2 separate regions of the Homo sapiens genome follow, and region 2 is linked to region 1. The links come from fine-mapping of genetic effects on gene expression. Tissue or cell type: blood mononuclear cells. Region 1 holds a variant in brackets; the other region holds the start of a gene. All regions are shown on one strand. Distances are from middle to middle.

Region 1 (8,104 bases):
AAGGGACAGGGACATAAAAAGTTAGAAGGGGATTTCTCTATGGGCCTGGATAAGACAGCACCACCCTGTCCAGTTTACTAGGGGAGGGAGGTGAGAATGGCACTCCTTCTTCCCATGAACAGGGCCTGATCTAGTCACAGAAAAGAAGACTTTTACCTTGGTGGTCTGGCCTGTTCGGAACCGTTCAAACCTACAAGACAGAAAAGACACGAGTTATGGAGACAGACTGAGACAGGCCCCCACACACGGCCAGGCAGAGCTTTTCAAACTGTGGGTCTCAACATCAACACGGTGGGTTATGATCAGGGTGATGACACGTCTGGTGTGCCCTGGACAGATCCAGTTCATGCCTGCTGTCCCTGGGTAACTAGCAGTGCTCCTCTTTCCCTTGCAAAAGTGTCCCAATTTGGATGATCAATTATAAGGCAACCTTAGTCATGAGTAGCATGAAACAAATAAACAGGAATAGGTTAGAACAGCAAAGAAAATAGGAATGCATGGCACGCAGTAAAGGTAAGGACTGTCTTATGAAACTTGTTTCAATTACATATTTGTGTGTGTGTATGTGTGTGTGTGTGTGTGTGTTAGTGCTCTCTTCAGTGCTGTAAGAAAGATACATGTATCTCTAATCTTGTTTTATGGAGCTACTTAGGGGCCGGTGTGATAGATCGAGAAGACTTTAGTGTGGGGTCTGTTCAAGTCGTGGCCTTGTCACTTATCACATGACCTCGGGTAAATTATGTTCCTTCTGAACTTTAGTCTGCTTGTCTAGTATCTGTAGGCACCTGCCTCCCTGAAGTGCTGAAGCCCAAATTAGGACATGGGTATAAGTGACTGCGAGCTTGAAAGCACAGTCAGATATTAAGCCTAATGACTGTGGATATCTGAGGGTACCAGCTGCTACCAGATGGGGCCCCTCAGTCACCTCACAGCCCATACCCCAAAATGGCAGGGAAGAGGCCTTTCATTCCACTGGGCCAACGAGCAGGAGAAGCTAGGCAGACGTGACCTGCAGGGTACCCCCCACTTTCCACTGATTTAGAATCAATCAGTGAGTGTCTTTTGATGGAGAAAGACACAAAAAATGAACAAGGGGCTGGAGGAGGCTGGAATAACTCATGTCAGTTATCAGACACCCTGGACTGCTAAGCGCTTTACAGACACTGTTTCATGGACTCTCACTTATGCCACAAGCCTCATTTTACAGATACAGAGGAGGTGTGATGGGCACACAATTTCTGCAGACCCAGCAATCCTTCTCCTTCTCTTTCCTTTTTTTTTTTGAGATGGAGTCTTGCTCTGTCGCCTAGGCTGGAGTGCAGTGGTGCGATCTCGGCTCATTGCAACCTCTGCCTCCTGGGTTCAAGCAATTCTCCTGCCTCAGCCTCCCAAGTAAGCTGGGATTACAGGCACCCACCACCACCTCCGGCTAATTTTTTTGTATTTTTTAGTAGAGACGGGGTTTCACCATGTTGGCCTGGCTGGTTGCAAACTCCTGGCCTCAAGTGATCCTCCCGGCTCAGCCTCCCAAAGTGCTAGGATTACAGGTGTGAGCCACTGCGCCCAGCCCTTCTCCTTCTTTTGTAATAGCACCTAAGTACTCTTTAGAGGAACTGCTCCTCCCCCATTTCACATCATCCCGGTGGGGCTGCCATCAAAGGGCCCTCTCCCATACCCCAGCTGGTAGGCACAATGAAGCTCAGCCAATCCAAGTCTCTCTTGGGGATGTGACTCTTGAACAGAATGATACAAGGTGGGCAGGTGGGTGTGGTGGCTCATGCCTGTAATACCAATGCTTTCGGAGGCCAAGGAGGGAGGACTGCTTGAGGCCAAGAGTTTGAGACTAGCCTGGGCAACACAGTGAGACCCCTGTCTCTGCAAAAAGAAAAAAAAAAAAAGAAAAGAAAATTAGCTGGGTGTGGTGGTGCATGCCTGTAGTCCCGGCTACCTGGCAGGCTGAGGTGGGAGGACTGCTTGAGCCCAGGAGGTTGAGGCTGCAGTGAGCTGTGATCATGCCACTATACTCCAGCCTGGGTGACAGAGCAAGATCGTGCCTCAAAAAAAAAAAAAAAAAAAAGGTGGACAGGTGTTTGTGGACAAGTGTTTGAGCTGATGTATTTATTGATGGCAGCACCCTGGGGAGATGGTCCAGGAATTTCTGCTCCTGAGACATCTGAGCTGCCCTGGGATCCATCTTTCTTGTTCTGTTGGGAGACATCAGTTTCACTTTTCTCTGGATTCTGAAAGCTACCCATTTAATAAAGATTATTATCCTAACAAATTCTTTTTCTGCCTAAGTTAGCCAGAAATGTTTTGTGTAGCTTGCAGCAGTGAAGTCACTTGTCTAAGGCCCCAGAACCAGGAAGTGGTGGAGTGGGCGAGGACACACCAGGCCAGTCTGGTTGCAGGGCCGTGCTCTCAGCTGTGACCTGTGACCATCTCCCAGGGCTGGACTTGGGCACAGGCAGCAGCGCTAACCCTGGAAAGGAGATACAGGGCGGCTGGAAGGAGGGGCCCTCATAAACATCCTGGAAGAAGACAGCTGAGGGCACAGGCCCTTAGGAGCCTGCCTTGTGTTTGAGAGGAGGACGAGAGAAGGCTCAGATGGCATGAGACCAGGAGAACAGGGAGGAAGGGAAGGGAGAGGGTTGGGGCAGTAGGCCAGAGGCCAGGGGAGGTGCTGGGGCTACCGTTCATGGCGCAGGAACACATTGTTGAGATTGTCATTGACGATGAGCAGCTCCTCTGTCAGCTGCTCATTGGCGATCTGAGGGATGAGCTCCAGGACCCGCTGCTGCATGGCTCGGCACGTGCGGTTGAGCTCCTGCCAGGAAAGGAAGTGAGGCAACCACAGTCACATGACTCAGAGTGAGGCCGTCTCTTTTTTTTTTTGTGAGACGGAGCTCTGTCGCCCAGGCTGGAGTGCAGTGGTGCGATCTTGGCTCACTGCAAGCTGTGTCCTGGGTTCATGCCATTCTCCTGCCTCAGCCTCCCAAGTAGCTGGGACTACAGGCGTCTGCCACCACGCCTGGCTAATTTTTTTTTTTGTAGTTTTAGTAGAGACGGGGTTTCGCCATATTAGCCAGGGTGGTCTCGATCTCCTGACCTCACGATCTGCCTGCCTCGGCCTCCCAAAGTGCTGGGATTACAGGCGTGAGCCACCGCGCCTGGCCAAGTGAGGCCATCTCTAATGCACGGGCCTCCAGCCCCTGCACAAGCCTTGGAGGAGGGTGAGGTGCCCAAACTGGACTTCAAGGTTCCACGGAACAGCTTTTTGGGTTCTACAAACATGAACTTGAACTTCACTTCCAAGTGTTAGATGCTAAAATTTAATCCACAGGAAACCATCAACATGTCCAACTGTGCTGCCGGTTTAACTTGGCTTCGTGCAGATTCCAGAATAAAGGTTGTGCCACCATCTTTGCTTAGTCAAAAAAAAACTGAGTCTGCAAAGGGGGCTGGCTGAACAAACCACAACTTCTGGGGGTATGCTGTGATTTTTGCAACCAAAGCATACAGAATGAACTAGATGACTGCAACCATTAGCCACAAACCTCGATTTCGAGTTTTTGCCTCACTTTTCTCACTGCCTGATTTTTTGTCTTTTTAAACAAACTTTTAGCTTTGGAATAATTTTAGATTTACAGAAGAGATGCAAAGATAGTACCACAAGTTCCCATATACCCTTGACCCTGGCTTCCCCTTAGTCTGGCATTTGTCAAAACTGGTAAACTACCATTAAACATTAAAACTGGTAAAATACTATTAACTAAACTGCGGACTTTATTCAGGTTTCACTAGTTTTTCCTCTAATGTCCTTTGTTTGTTCTAGGATCCTACACTGCATTTAGTTATCACGTCACCGACTTTTAACCACTAGGTGTCATATTTAAACTTATGAAAAATAAAAAAAATGGCTACACCCGGTGGCTCGTGCCTATAATCCCAGCACTTGGGGAGGCCGAGGCGGGTGGATCACCTGAGGTCAGGAGTTCAAGACCAGCCTGGCCAACAAGGTGAAACCCTGTGTCTACTAATAATACAAAAATTAGCCGGGCATGGTGGTGTATGCCTATAATCCCAGCTGCTTGGAAGGCTGAGGCAGGAGAATAGCTTGAACCCAAGAGGCAGAGGCTGCGGTGAGCCGAGATCGCGCCACTGCACTCCAGCCTGGGTGACAGAGCAAGACTCCGTCTCAAAAAAAATAAAAAAATAAAAAACCATAGCCATATGGGTTTTCATTTTTAAGATTGGTCAATTATTTCTTCAGGTACCTGCCACCAGGTGAAGGTTCCTGGGTCACGGCAGGTGCCTGGGTCCTGAGGTCCAGGGAGCTGCCCGGCATTGCCGACTGTGGCCTCACGCCAGCACGCCTTTCTCCTGGAGGCAACGCTGAGGCTCGGCACTGCCCAGTGTTTATTTTGGCTGTCATGTGGACCCTGTCCCCTGCCCCCTCCAAGGTCAGGCCTCCGGGATTTCCTCATCGCCCTTAGCACGGGGACAG[G/T]GCGGGTGCCTTTCAACATCCTGTGGGCTCCCCTCCTGCTCTTATGACCAAGCACACGGTGGCTTTGCTTCTGCTTCCCTGCTGGCCCCTCTCAAGAGCAGAAGAGCAGCACTTGGAGCCAGGCCCCCGGGTTCAAATCGCAGCTCTGCTACTTACCAGCCATATAACCCTGGACGTGTTATCTGATCTCCCTATGCCTATTTCCTGACCTGGAAAATGGGGGTGGTCAGGATTACGTGAGCGATGTGAACCAAGTGTCCACATATAGCCCGGGACACGGGAAGTGCCCAGTGCATGGGAGCTGTCCCTGCATCCACCTTGCTCAGCCTTCTGAGTCCCCAGACTGCTCACATCTCATGGCCTTGGCTTGGGGCGTGCGAGGCTGCCTGCGCAGTCTTCTCTCTTTCGGAGCCCTTACTGGGTTTCAAGTTTGTGTATTCACTGGACTCTGAGGCTACTCCTTTTCTCCCCACCCTGCACCACCAAGTGAGGACCCCTGCAGAGTCAGCTCGGTCAGGCACACAGACACGGTGGCGAGGAAGACACAGCGCTGCCCTCAAGGAGCCTGAGGCCTGGTGGACGAGCAGTAGGAACTCGAACAGTTACACGAAGCGCTCTGTCTCCTCATGGATTCTGGTGACTCCTGGGCCTTGGGGATTCCTAGCTCTCTTGGTGCCTCTATGACTGGCCTCCATGGGGAGGGTGCTTTTTGCCAAATTCAGTGTCCCTTCTGCTCCAGTGACCCCCAATCTGGGCTGGGGCCGTGGGAATACCATGTGACACCCGGGAGCAGGAACCACTAGCTCCACCTGCCTTGGCTCCCCAAGATCAGTGGCTGGCGCATCTCAAGGCTGGCACCACCCTCTCACACCTGCCTGCTGAGTCTCGGATTCTGAATGGTGTAAATCTCACCTTCCAGCTTTTTCTCAGGACCCCTTACTGGGTGCTTTACTCTGTACCAGGCACAAGCCTGCGTGTTTTTCATGCAATACCTTATTTAACTCACATCAAACTTGTGCCATGAAGGCTATTGTTAGAGCAATCTTACAGATGAGGAAACTGAGGCCAGGGGGGCTACTTTGTTCAAACCAGAAAGTGGTAGAGCTGCGATCTGATTCCAATCTGATGGCGTCCAAAGTCCCTGGTGGTAACATGTCCCCAACTGTGACCAAGGAGTATGGAGTAAGCCATGAAGACTGTCATGAGGATTGGGAAAGAATGCATGTGGGCAGCTGGGCAGGAGTCATCTGAGCCCCAGGGGGTGGTGCCACCTGCTCACCTGCAGCAGCTCCAGGTCTGCGGGCTCGGCCTGGGTGGGCACCAGCTCCGTCAGCATCTCCGACATCACCCTCACGTTCCCACTCACCATCTCCAGCTCACTGCGCAGCTTCCCAATCTGAAACACACAGTTGATCGTGGTGAGAGAAGCCAGGGTTCTGGGGCCCATGTTACTCACAGCGACAGAACCCAGTACCACCAACCCTGGGTGCAGCACCAGGGAGCCGACCTCCCAGCAGCCTCTCTAGGCAGCCTCCCTCCTGGCTCCCAAAGTGACAGCTCTGCACTAGAGGCCTGCCCCACCCCTTCTACAGACCCCTCACAGAGGCGCTACCAACCGTTACCATCTCCACACCGGAATGAGCCACCACGTGTGGCTGGAAGACTCCAGCATCTCCTGGGTCTAACACAGCAGCTAACAAGGCCCTGGAGGGTGGCTCCCCACAAGGCGGGGAGGGACGCTGCAGGCCCTCTCTCTCTCTCCCACTAGAGGACTGGGATTCTGCCCTCTCTCTCTCCTCCTAGAGGACTGGGATTCCGCCCTCTCTCCTAGAAGACTGGGATCCCCCCCTCTCTCTCCTCCTAGAGGACTGGGATCCCACCCTCTCTCCTCCTAGAGGACTGGGATCCCGCCGTCTCTCTCCTCCTAGAGGACTGGGATCCCGCCCTCTCTCCTCCTAGAGGACTGGGATTCCGTCCTCTCTCTCTCCTCCTAGAGGACTGGGATTCCACCCTCTCTCTCCTCCTAGTGGACTGGGCTTCTGCCCTCTTTCTCCTCCTAGTGGACTGGGATTTTGTCCTGTTTCTGGTCTATTTTGGTGTCCCAGGCTCATCTAAGGATAGTCCTTGCCCTGTACCCCACCTTGAATATGAAACTCAGATTTAGCACTTGTTCCAAGGGATGTGGGCAGGTTTTCAATGGTCAAAGGGTTCCAAGGAGTTGGGCTTGGGGAAACATTTTCAATAAAGCTGCAGTCTCCTCAAAGAGGTTAGCTTGTGAAAGGCCATTGGTATAAGGATCTTATGCTGTGGGACCTTGTAGGGTGTTTAATGCCCTCATGCACACTGGGAATGCCTGGGAAAAGATCAGTCTGAAAGCTTCTAAGATTTATTTGACTGAAGAACCTTTTTATGTTTTGAGAAATGCTGGTACATTCTAAATCATGTGGCTGAGTTATAGTTGATTTCAGAGTGTCACTATATACATTCATGATTGTGACAGCAGCTACCATTTATAGACTACCTAATAAGTGCCAAGCATTGAACATATATTGCTAACTTAATTTTTTACCATGGTAGACATCAATATCCCTGCTTTTATAGATGAAGAAATGGAGTGTAGAGACTAGTAGTATATCCACTATGGTTCACTGACACCTTCCAAAACCTGCAAAATGTTTGATCTATTTGGCTTACTTAATGAACACTCTTGGTATGAGTGAGTGGAAAAACTACTGATCACAAACCCCATGTATCCAAATCAGATGGGACTTAATTACAGAGGAGTCTGGGAGTAACATCACTGCACACCTGATGTCTTAACATGTCCCAAGAGACAAAAGGGGACTCTCGAATTAAACAAAGATTAGTTTTGTTTAGCAAGCACCTTCTTGCATTGGAAGTAATTAGCGTCTTAATCCACACAGATGCTAGACTTCAGAAAATTGGTTAAAATCATAACTGAGTTAGACAATCACAAGGTGGTTTTACAATTTTTTACACACCTTTAACCCACTCAGAAAAAAAAAGTGCAGCTCGCTGTCAGCACTCATTTAATTTTACATAAACATGCTCTTTGAGGCTGAAGTAAACCTGACTGATTTTCAACATGAAAATAAAACATAAAAACTGTTCTTGGAGTTATTTCTAAACAGAACTTGTCTCCAATCCTAACGTAACAGAAATGTATATGAGGTTACATTAGGATTAGAGACAAGAGTATTCTTGGGGCAAACGGGCAGTGCGTTAATAATTTTGTCCAGTTAGCAAAATTTTCTAGTAATATCTGTAACTCTGAGGGGTGATTTCATAACTTGCTATGAGAAAACAAATCATGGAAGTTTCTCTTCAAATAGGTTAGGGTGAGAATGAGTTCAAATGATACAAAAAGTGGGCAGTGGGGACGCTTATTGGGAAAGTTAAGCTTCACTTTTCTTTCCATCACACATCCGTGTCTAACTCACCAGCACACTCAGCAGCTCCACCTTTACGCTCCGCGGATGTGATGGGCCTGATGTGTGTACAACACCTTTAACGTGGGTGTCTCCACAGTGTGCAGGCCTCTGCCCCCACCCCAGCAGCCAAAAGTCTAGAATGACAAGC
Region 2 (8,104 bases), 29 kb after region 1:
ACTGGGCAGCTCGAGGCAGTGTGGTGAGGGTACAAAAGAAGACCTGGGTCTGGATTCTGACCTTGAGTGGCTGTGGAACCCTGGAAAGCGATGCTTTCTCTTAGACTGACTTTTGGTGAAATGGGAAAAAAATAGCAAAACCGCACAGGGTCACCATGAGATTAATACCCAGGACGCTAGCAGAATACCTGGCAGAGTTATTATGGTGTTTGCTCACAAAATGTTACTTTCCTTTTCTCCCTTCCTCCTTCCTGCTATGTGCCAGGCACCGTGCTAGGTGCTGAGGGTCTGGAGAAATAAGGCACAGTTCCTGCTCTCAAGAGGTTCAGCCTAGCTGTGGAGACAGACATGCACAACCACTAACAGAGTGGGACGGTGGCATATTAGTATAATGAGGGTAGAAATAATAAAAATAAGCCAAGCGTGGTGGCTCACACCTGCAATCCCAGCACTTTGGGAGGCTAAGGTGGCTGGATCACTTGAGGTCAGGAGTTCAAGACCAGCTTGGCTAACATGGTGAAACCCCATCTCTACTAAAAATACAAAAATTAGCCGGGCATGGTGGTGTGCACCTCTAATCCCAGCTACTCGGGAGGCTGAGGCAGGAGAATCACTTGAACCTGGGGGGCAGAGGTTGCAGTGAGCTGAGGCTGTGCCACTGCATTCCAGCCTTTTTTGAGACTCTGTCTCAAAAAAAAAAAAAAAAAAGAAATAATAAAAATGATGATGGTGATGATGACAGGAAGAGCTAATGTTTCCATACACTCACACTGTGCGAGACACTCTCAGAGGACTATCTTGTTTCATTCCAGCAACCACCCTGTGAGGCAGATGCTGTTAGTAACATTCTACCAAGGAGGAAGCGGAGATTCAGAGCCCAAAGTCATAGGGCAAGGGGGCCTGAGGATCTAGGATAAAGGGAGAGTAAAAGAGCAACGTCGGGCTTGGGGCAAGCCTCAGGGAGGAGGTGATGATGCCCTGTACTTTGAAGGGTGATCTGGAGCTCCTCAGTGGGGGCACAGGAGCAAGCAACCCAGGCAGAGGGACCAGCAAGCACAAAGGGGTGTGTGTGTGTGTGTGTTGGGAGGGGAGGTGGATGAGAACTTTGTGATTCCAGTGACTGACACTCATTCCTGATTAGCATCATTAGAATCACCATCTGAGGGATGTCAATTCCATATGGCTCTACAGCTCTACTATCAACAAGGGCATGGGAGTCGGCAGGCTTGAGAAGAGATGGTACTCCTGCAGCAAGGAGGGGCCTGGTTTACAGAATTATAAGCAGCTATACTGTGTCATCAGTAATCACAGCCAGGGAGCAGTACTTCCTCCGCCTCTTTATCTAAAAGAATATGGAATACTGAGGGGATTAACTCAAACTCTTAATTCTACTTTTGGAGCCTCTTCAGCTTTGGTTTAAATTTCAATGACTCAGTTTTGCTGTCAATTTACTGGGGTCTTGGATGAGTCACAGCCTCCACTTTCCCCTCTCTGGACCTTAGTCTCCGCCAGTGTAAAATGAAGGGGATGGGCTGGAACAGCATTAGCATTACCCGGGAACTCAACAGAAATTCACATTCTAGGCCGGACACGGTGGTCATGCCTGTAATCCCAGTACTTTGGGAGGCTGAGGTGGGTGGGTCACCTGTTCAGGTTTGAGACCAGCCTGGCCAACATGGAGAAACCCCATCTCTATTAAAAATACAAAATTAGTCGGGTGTGGCGGAGCGTGCCTGTAATCCCGGCTACCTTGGGAGGCTGAGGCAGGAGAATCGCTTGAACCCGGGAGGCGGAAGTTGCAGTGAGCCAAGATGGTGCCATTGCACCCCAGCCTGGGCAACAAGAGCGAAACGCAGTCTCAAAAAAAAAAAAAAAAAAAAAAGAAAAAGAAAAAGAAAAAGAAAAAAAAAGAAATTCACATTCTAGAGTCCCACCGCAGACCTGGAGAGTCAGAAACTCTGGGGTTGGGGCCCCGACATTATTTAACAAGCCCTCCTAGGAATTCTGATGAGAACCACTGGGTTAGAAGATCCCCAAGGTAAGGCTCTTTTACCTGCAAAATTCCATTTGTGCTTTAAGGTATTATGATTTAGTAGCATTCTCTTTGCACAGAAGTATTTCTTGCCCAAGAAAGGCAACGCTTCAAGGTAAGAAGAGAAGTTTGCTTTGATTAGCTGAAATCCAGAACCCAGGTGAGCTTTTCCAGAAAGCCTTAAGAGTATGTGGCTGACTTTGAAGCCAGGTCTTTTATTTACTTGTTTATTTTTAAGTAGTAAGTCTTAAACTTGGCATGTGATAAAAGCAGTGGTTTCTGTAGTCAGAGAAATATAGATGAGAGGAGAGCTGCCTTCTCTTTTCAGCTCCAAAAAACCATGACTCACTGTGGGGTGGGTGTGTGTCCGGGGAGGGCAGGGGTCCTTTGAGAGGGCAGTTCCTCTCCCTGGTTCAGGAGCTTCCTGGTGTGTAAATCCTGGACTGCCACCTCCCCCTTGGAGAGCATTGATTACAAAACCTCGGAAGAGCCACCGACAGCCACGGTGGCGATTACAACACAGAGCCGGGTCGACAAGCTTTCGTGAGGTTTCGCAAGACACTAAGAATGGAAAATATGTCTCATCTTAAAGTTTTCCCAGTCTGGACTTAAGACGAAAAGTCGTCATCAAAAAAGATGAAGAGTAATTTCACGGTAATGCGATGGTTTCTTCATGCAAGAATGCGGAACACCCAAACCATCCTCCGGAGAAGTGTGGCTGTTTGGGTGAAGGCATGTCGGTTCTCATGGTGTTGGTGCCCAAGAATGAGCACCTATGAGATCTACTGCCAAGCGATTTCCAGGGATTCCTAACCTTCACTTGGTGATCTCAGGAACAACGTGTGTGTGTAAATACATATAATATATATGTATGTGTATGTATATGTATGTTTGTATGTGTATATTTTTATATATATGTGTGCGTGTGTGTGTGTGTATGTGTATGTGTTTCAAGAGATGGGCTCTCCCTGCGTCGTCCAGGCTGGAGTACAGTGGCGCCATCAGGGCTCACTGCAGCCCTGACCTCCCAGATCCAATAAATCCTCCCAGCTCTGCCTACCGAGTGGCTGGGTGCACAGGCACGCACCACCACGCCCGGCTAATTTCTGTATTTTTTTTTTTTTTTTTTTTTGTAGAGACGGGGTCTCGCCATGTTGCCCAGGCTGGTCTCGAACTCCTGGGCTCAAGCGATCTGCCCGCCTTGGCCTCCCAAAGTGCTGGGATTACAGGCGGGAGCCACCGTGCCCAGCCCAGTGATAATAAATATTACAACTGTTTTTTTTTATATGGCACTGGCCATGTACCAGGCATTGTTCTAAGTATTTCACATTTATTAAGGAATTTAATCTTCACAACAAGCCCACGGAGGTGGGGACCATTATTGCCCGCCAACTACAGGTGAGGAAACCTCGGCCCAGGGAGGCTGCGTCACAGAACTGTGAGTATCCTGTCACCAGGGTGCAGAGAACCACGGACCAGCAGACAGGCGCCAGGTGCCCTGGGCTTGGCTTGGCCCGAGTTCCCGGCTGCCCCACCTACGGAGCACCGAGATGGGCTGACCAGGAGGGTTTGTCCGACCACTGTCTGCTCAGGTTCTGAGAGTCTGTGCGGGTCCATTTGAGGTTGGGTCGAGAAAAGAGCCCAGGCGGACACGTCCTGAGACCCGGGTCTGTGAGGCCTGGCCGCGGGCTGTCCGGCGCTGGGCCCCTCTGGCCAGTTGGCCCCAAGACGCCAAGCCCGGGGCTTCGCGGTCCTGGGAGAAGGGACTTCTAGCCCTTCTCAGGTGTCTGTGTCCGGAGGGCCCGGTGAGCCAGGAAGGAGCTGGCCAGAGCCCAGGCGGCGGGACCCAGCAGAGTGGCCCAGCCACTGCCAACCACGCAGTCCCTTTAACCACGAAAACTTTCTCCCTCGATTGGGGACCCCAGCAGACGCACATTGGCTGCGCCGTGGGCATCCGGACCCACCCTCTCTCCTTACCTACTGGCTGTCATATACATCTATCACAAGCCAAGGCTTCCTAATGGCCCAAGTTCTTGTCAATCAAGAGTGGGAGGAAAGCTGGGCGGAGCCAGGTCGGAGAGCTACACGCCAGCCTCCTTGCCCTCCCTGCCTCCGTGACTAGGCACCCGGAGGCTTCCCAGGGGACCGAAGCTGGGTGCGGAGCACCGGGGCGGAGCTGTGGGGGGCTCCAGGGACTCACCGATGCGCTGTCCCACTGGAGAGCTGAACGGGTTCCCCAGGAGAAAGTCCATTGCTGCTACCGCCGCTGCCACCAACCCCGGGAATCAGCTGACAGCAACCGCCAGCGCCACCGACCCGTCACGTGACGCACTCGGAGGCCGGCGAGGAGGCGTGGGCGGGGCGGTGGCACCGCGAAGCTCGACCACAAGCCCCGCCCTGAGACGCCAGGGTCCCGCCCCCGAGGCGGAGGGCGATGACCTCACTGCGGCTTGCTCGGCGGCGGCGGGCGTCACACACGATGTAGGGTCTGGGGTCGGGGCCCGGGAAGCGCGGTCCTCTTTAAGCCACGCCCCTGACCTTTTAGGGCGAGGTCTAAAGGACCCTTTACACATTTGGGAAACTGGGTCGTAGACCAGGGAAGTGACTTGGGTGAGTTACACAGAAGCCGAGACTCTTAGGGTCATAGCCCTTAGTCCTTGGGACCTCACTGTGACTGCACACCTACCCTGGGTGACAGCCTCTCTGGGCTGTTGTCTCCTTGTCCCGGTAAGACTCTTCCTGTTTGATGTCAAGGTCTCCCCGCTCCAAGATGCACCCTGCTCGCAGCCCAAATTATCTTACCTTAAATCAGAGGCAAGGGCAAGGGGTTTGTCATCTGTTGAGACTGAGAGGCAATTTAATGAATTGCAGCGCAATTCCCTCTAGCGCCCAGGATGGCAAAAAGCACAGATGTAGTCACGAGTGGGGCTTTAATACCCGTCTCTGCCATAAATTTACTGTGTGAGCCAAACATAGCTCCCATTTTCTCTAGATACTGGAATTAGATCAAGGACTCGTAACCATTTTTAAAAAATATTTTATTTAGGTCACAGTCTCCTTTGAGAATTTGACAAAAGCCATGAGCCTTTCTGAAGAAAAAAGGCAGCGATACAATTTTGCTTATAACCTCAGGGAGTTTCTGGGGTCCCTGAAGTACAACCGTGGACCCCAAGCTAAGAATCTCAAAGGCCTTTCCCAGCGTTGTGATTCTAATCTCTTCAGCCTTCCTGGCTGTGTGTGGTGTGTCTGCTGACACCTACACACTAGATACCTATCTATGGGTTATGACCTTTTCTTCTGGCATGTACTCCAAAAATACAATAACCATGGCCTTAGTAGTCTGGCTACTGTGGGTGCTTAAGTACTTATTGTGATGTTTGTGGTTTTTAAATCTGAAAGGCTAGTAAATTGACTGCACAAATTTTGGATGACAGAAAACCTAAATTAAGCAAGGTGTGGTGGCTCACGCCTGTAATCCCAACATTTTGGGAGGCTGAGGCAGGTGGATCACCTGAGGTCAGGCATTCAAAACAAGCCTAGCCAACATGGTAAAATGCCGTCTCTACTAAAAATACAAAAATTAGCCAGGTGTGGTGGTACACGCCTGTAGTCCCAGCTACTTGGGAGGCTGAGGCATGAGAATTGCTTGGACCCAGGGGGGCAGAGATTGCAGTGAGCTGAGATCGTGCCACTGCACTCCAGCCTGGGTGACAGAGTAAGGCTGTGTCTTAAAAAAAAAAACAAACCTAAATTAGAACTTAATCACCTCTGTAGATTCACTTGTTTGAGCAGCCATGGGGTCCGATGTCTTTACTGTACAATATAAAAACTGCTTTGAAGTGTTTCCACAACACTCATGAGACCTGTTCACAAATGCCTTTGCCCCCACGAGTCTGGATGTCCCTGGGGGCTGGGCTACTATTTCTGTTTTGCTCCCCACTATTGTCTAACCCAGTAACTAGCACATGAAAGCTTAAATAGATCTACGTTTCAGTAATGGTATTTGGAGTATAAGCGGGGAGAAGGCCATTTAAGATGACCTTCAGGTCAAGGCACTTTCCATGTCTTTCTTCACTTAACCTTATTGCTTGGTCATATGGAGTTATGTTTAGCATGAACTTCTTTTGGATTCTTCCATTAACCTTTATTTATTTATTTTTAGAGGCAAAGTCTCACTATGTTGCCCAGGCTGGTCCTTGAACTTCTGAGCTCAAGTGATCCTCCCACCTCAGCCTCCCAAAGCCCTGGGTTACAGGCATGAGCCACCATCTCTGGCCCTTCCTTTAAGCTTTTAACAAGTTCTTGTAAACTTTATTCATGGTAAAAAAAAAAAAAAAAAAAAACAAAAAAAAACAAAAACAGAGACAACTCATATGCCCCCAAACAGGAAGTGGAATCATAAACTCCATGCAGGCTGGGCACGGTGGCTCACACCTGTAATCACAGCACTTTGGGAGACCCAGGCAGGCAGATCACGAAGTCAGGAGATCAAGACCATCCTGGCTAACACGGTGAAACCCCATCTCTACTAAAAAAATAGAAAAAATTAGCTGGGCGTGGTGGTGGGCGCCGTGGTGGGCGCCTGTAGTCCCAGCTACTCGGGAGGCTGAGGCAGGAGAATGGCGTGAACCTGGTAGGCGGAGCTTGCAGTGAGCAGAGATTGCACCACTGCACTCCAGCCTGGGAGACAGAGCGAGACTCCGTCTCAAAAAAAAAAAGAAAAACAACTCCATGCAAACTGATTACTATATAGCTATTGAAACAGAAATGGAAGTATATGGATTTATTTATTTATTTATTTTTAAAGACAGAGTCTCTGTCACCCAGGCTGGCGTACAGTGGTACAACTGTAGCTCACCGTAGCCCTGATCTCCTGGGCTCAAGTGTCTTCCCACTTCAGCCTCTTGAGTAGGTGGGACTGCAGATGCATGCCACCATACCTGGCTAATATCTTTTAGTTTTTGTAGAGATGGGGTTTTGCTATATTCTCCAGGCTGGTCTCAAACACCTGGCCACAAATGATCCTCCTGACTTAGTCTCCCAAAGTGCTGGGATTACAGACACGAGCCACTGCACCTGGCCAGTATATGGATTTTATCAACATAGTAGATAGGGATGTAAATGGCAAACATTAAAGTTAGTACAAAACTGATTAAAACTGTCTTTAAAAAGTGTGCTAATAAGGAGCAAACTGATTTAGTAAAAAGTGTTTCAATTTACTTTTTAAGTGTTTTAGTAAAATTAATATCATGCCTTACTGAGGGTTAAAATGTTCAAATTTCTTAAGATTGACAGTCTGCATAAATGTAATCTATTAAATCCTTTAAGTGCTTACAGACAAAAATCAAGATACCTTGCCTTCAAAATTTAAAGACAATAGTATGACAAGAGTGAAAGCCAGCTAGATACCCGAACAATGCAAAGATCTGAGACAGCATTCCCACAATCACATTCGCTCAGGACTTGAGATAATGGAAAGCATTCTGATGAATTATAGACATGATTTAAATCTGAAAGTAGCTTGGGGTAGAAAAGAGCCTAGGGTTTGGGGTCAGCTGTTTCACTGTTCTTAATCTGCCTTTGCCATTTACTAGCAGTATAAACTTAGGAAAAGTACTTTTTCGCATCTATAAAGGGAGATAATATTCTTAAGGCTTTGGGCGGAGGATGAGTGAGACAAAGTATGCAAATCACTCTAATAGTCACTCAGTGATACGGTAGTCTCTTCCTTGCTGCCTTTCCATAAGACATTAGCCTTGTAATTAATCATATTATTTTACTATTTATGACTTTTAACACCTTGTGTTTGCACTGAAGTTTTTACCTTGAAAGGTCATATCTCCATATATTCAGTGTTCATAATGTTATTAAACATTCATGTCAGGCTGGCTGGCTGCAGGTCTACAGACAGGGAAGTGACTTTAACACTATTCTATAGATGGGACTTTGGAAGCCTATAAAGATTAAGTAACTTATCAACAGCATTACTGTAATGCTAACAGGACAGTACTGAAACATATCATTTAGCACATGATTCAGATGCAACCCTTATATAAGATTAATCAACATTTT

What was found. PIP is the estimated chance that this variant, and not a neighbour inherited with it, causes the effect.
Region 2: it holds the start of TOM1, and the variant in region 1 is fine-mapped to the expression of TOM1 in blood mononuclear cells (TOPMed, PIP above 0.99). The same link has a PIP of 0.9 or more in monocytes, monocytes after interferon gamma, non-classical monocytes, spleen and whole blood.

Annotation. Positions count from the first base shown.
Region 1 is chr22:35,325,067-35,333,170 of GRCh38, reverse strand. It overlaps TOM1 (target of myb1 membrane trafficking protein), which reads right to left. Exons shown (of 15, transcript NM_005488.3): 7 at 5,784-5,900; 8 at 2,691-2,824; 9 at 157-190. Among named protein-coding and RNA genes, the nearest start is that of MIR3909, 6.5 kb to the left of the region's middle. RefSeq lists enhancers at 2,311-2,811, 4,301-4,595. The variant G/T (reference allele first, on the strand shown) is at 4,505.
Region 2 is chr22:35,296,109-35,304,212 of GRCh38, reverse strand. It overlaps TOM1 (target of myb1 membrane trafficking protein), which reads right to left and starts at 4,319. Exons shown (of 15, transcript NM_005488.3): 1 at 4,233-4,319. The coding sequence starts at 4,284. RefSeq lists enhancers at 2,654-3,175, 3,586-3,745, 3,699-4,221, 4,146-4,295, 4,222-4,744.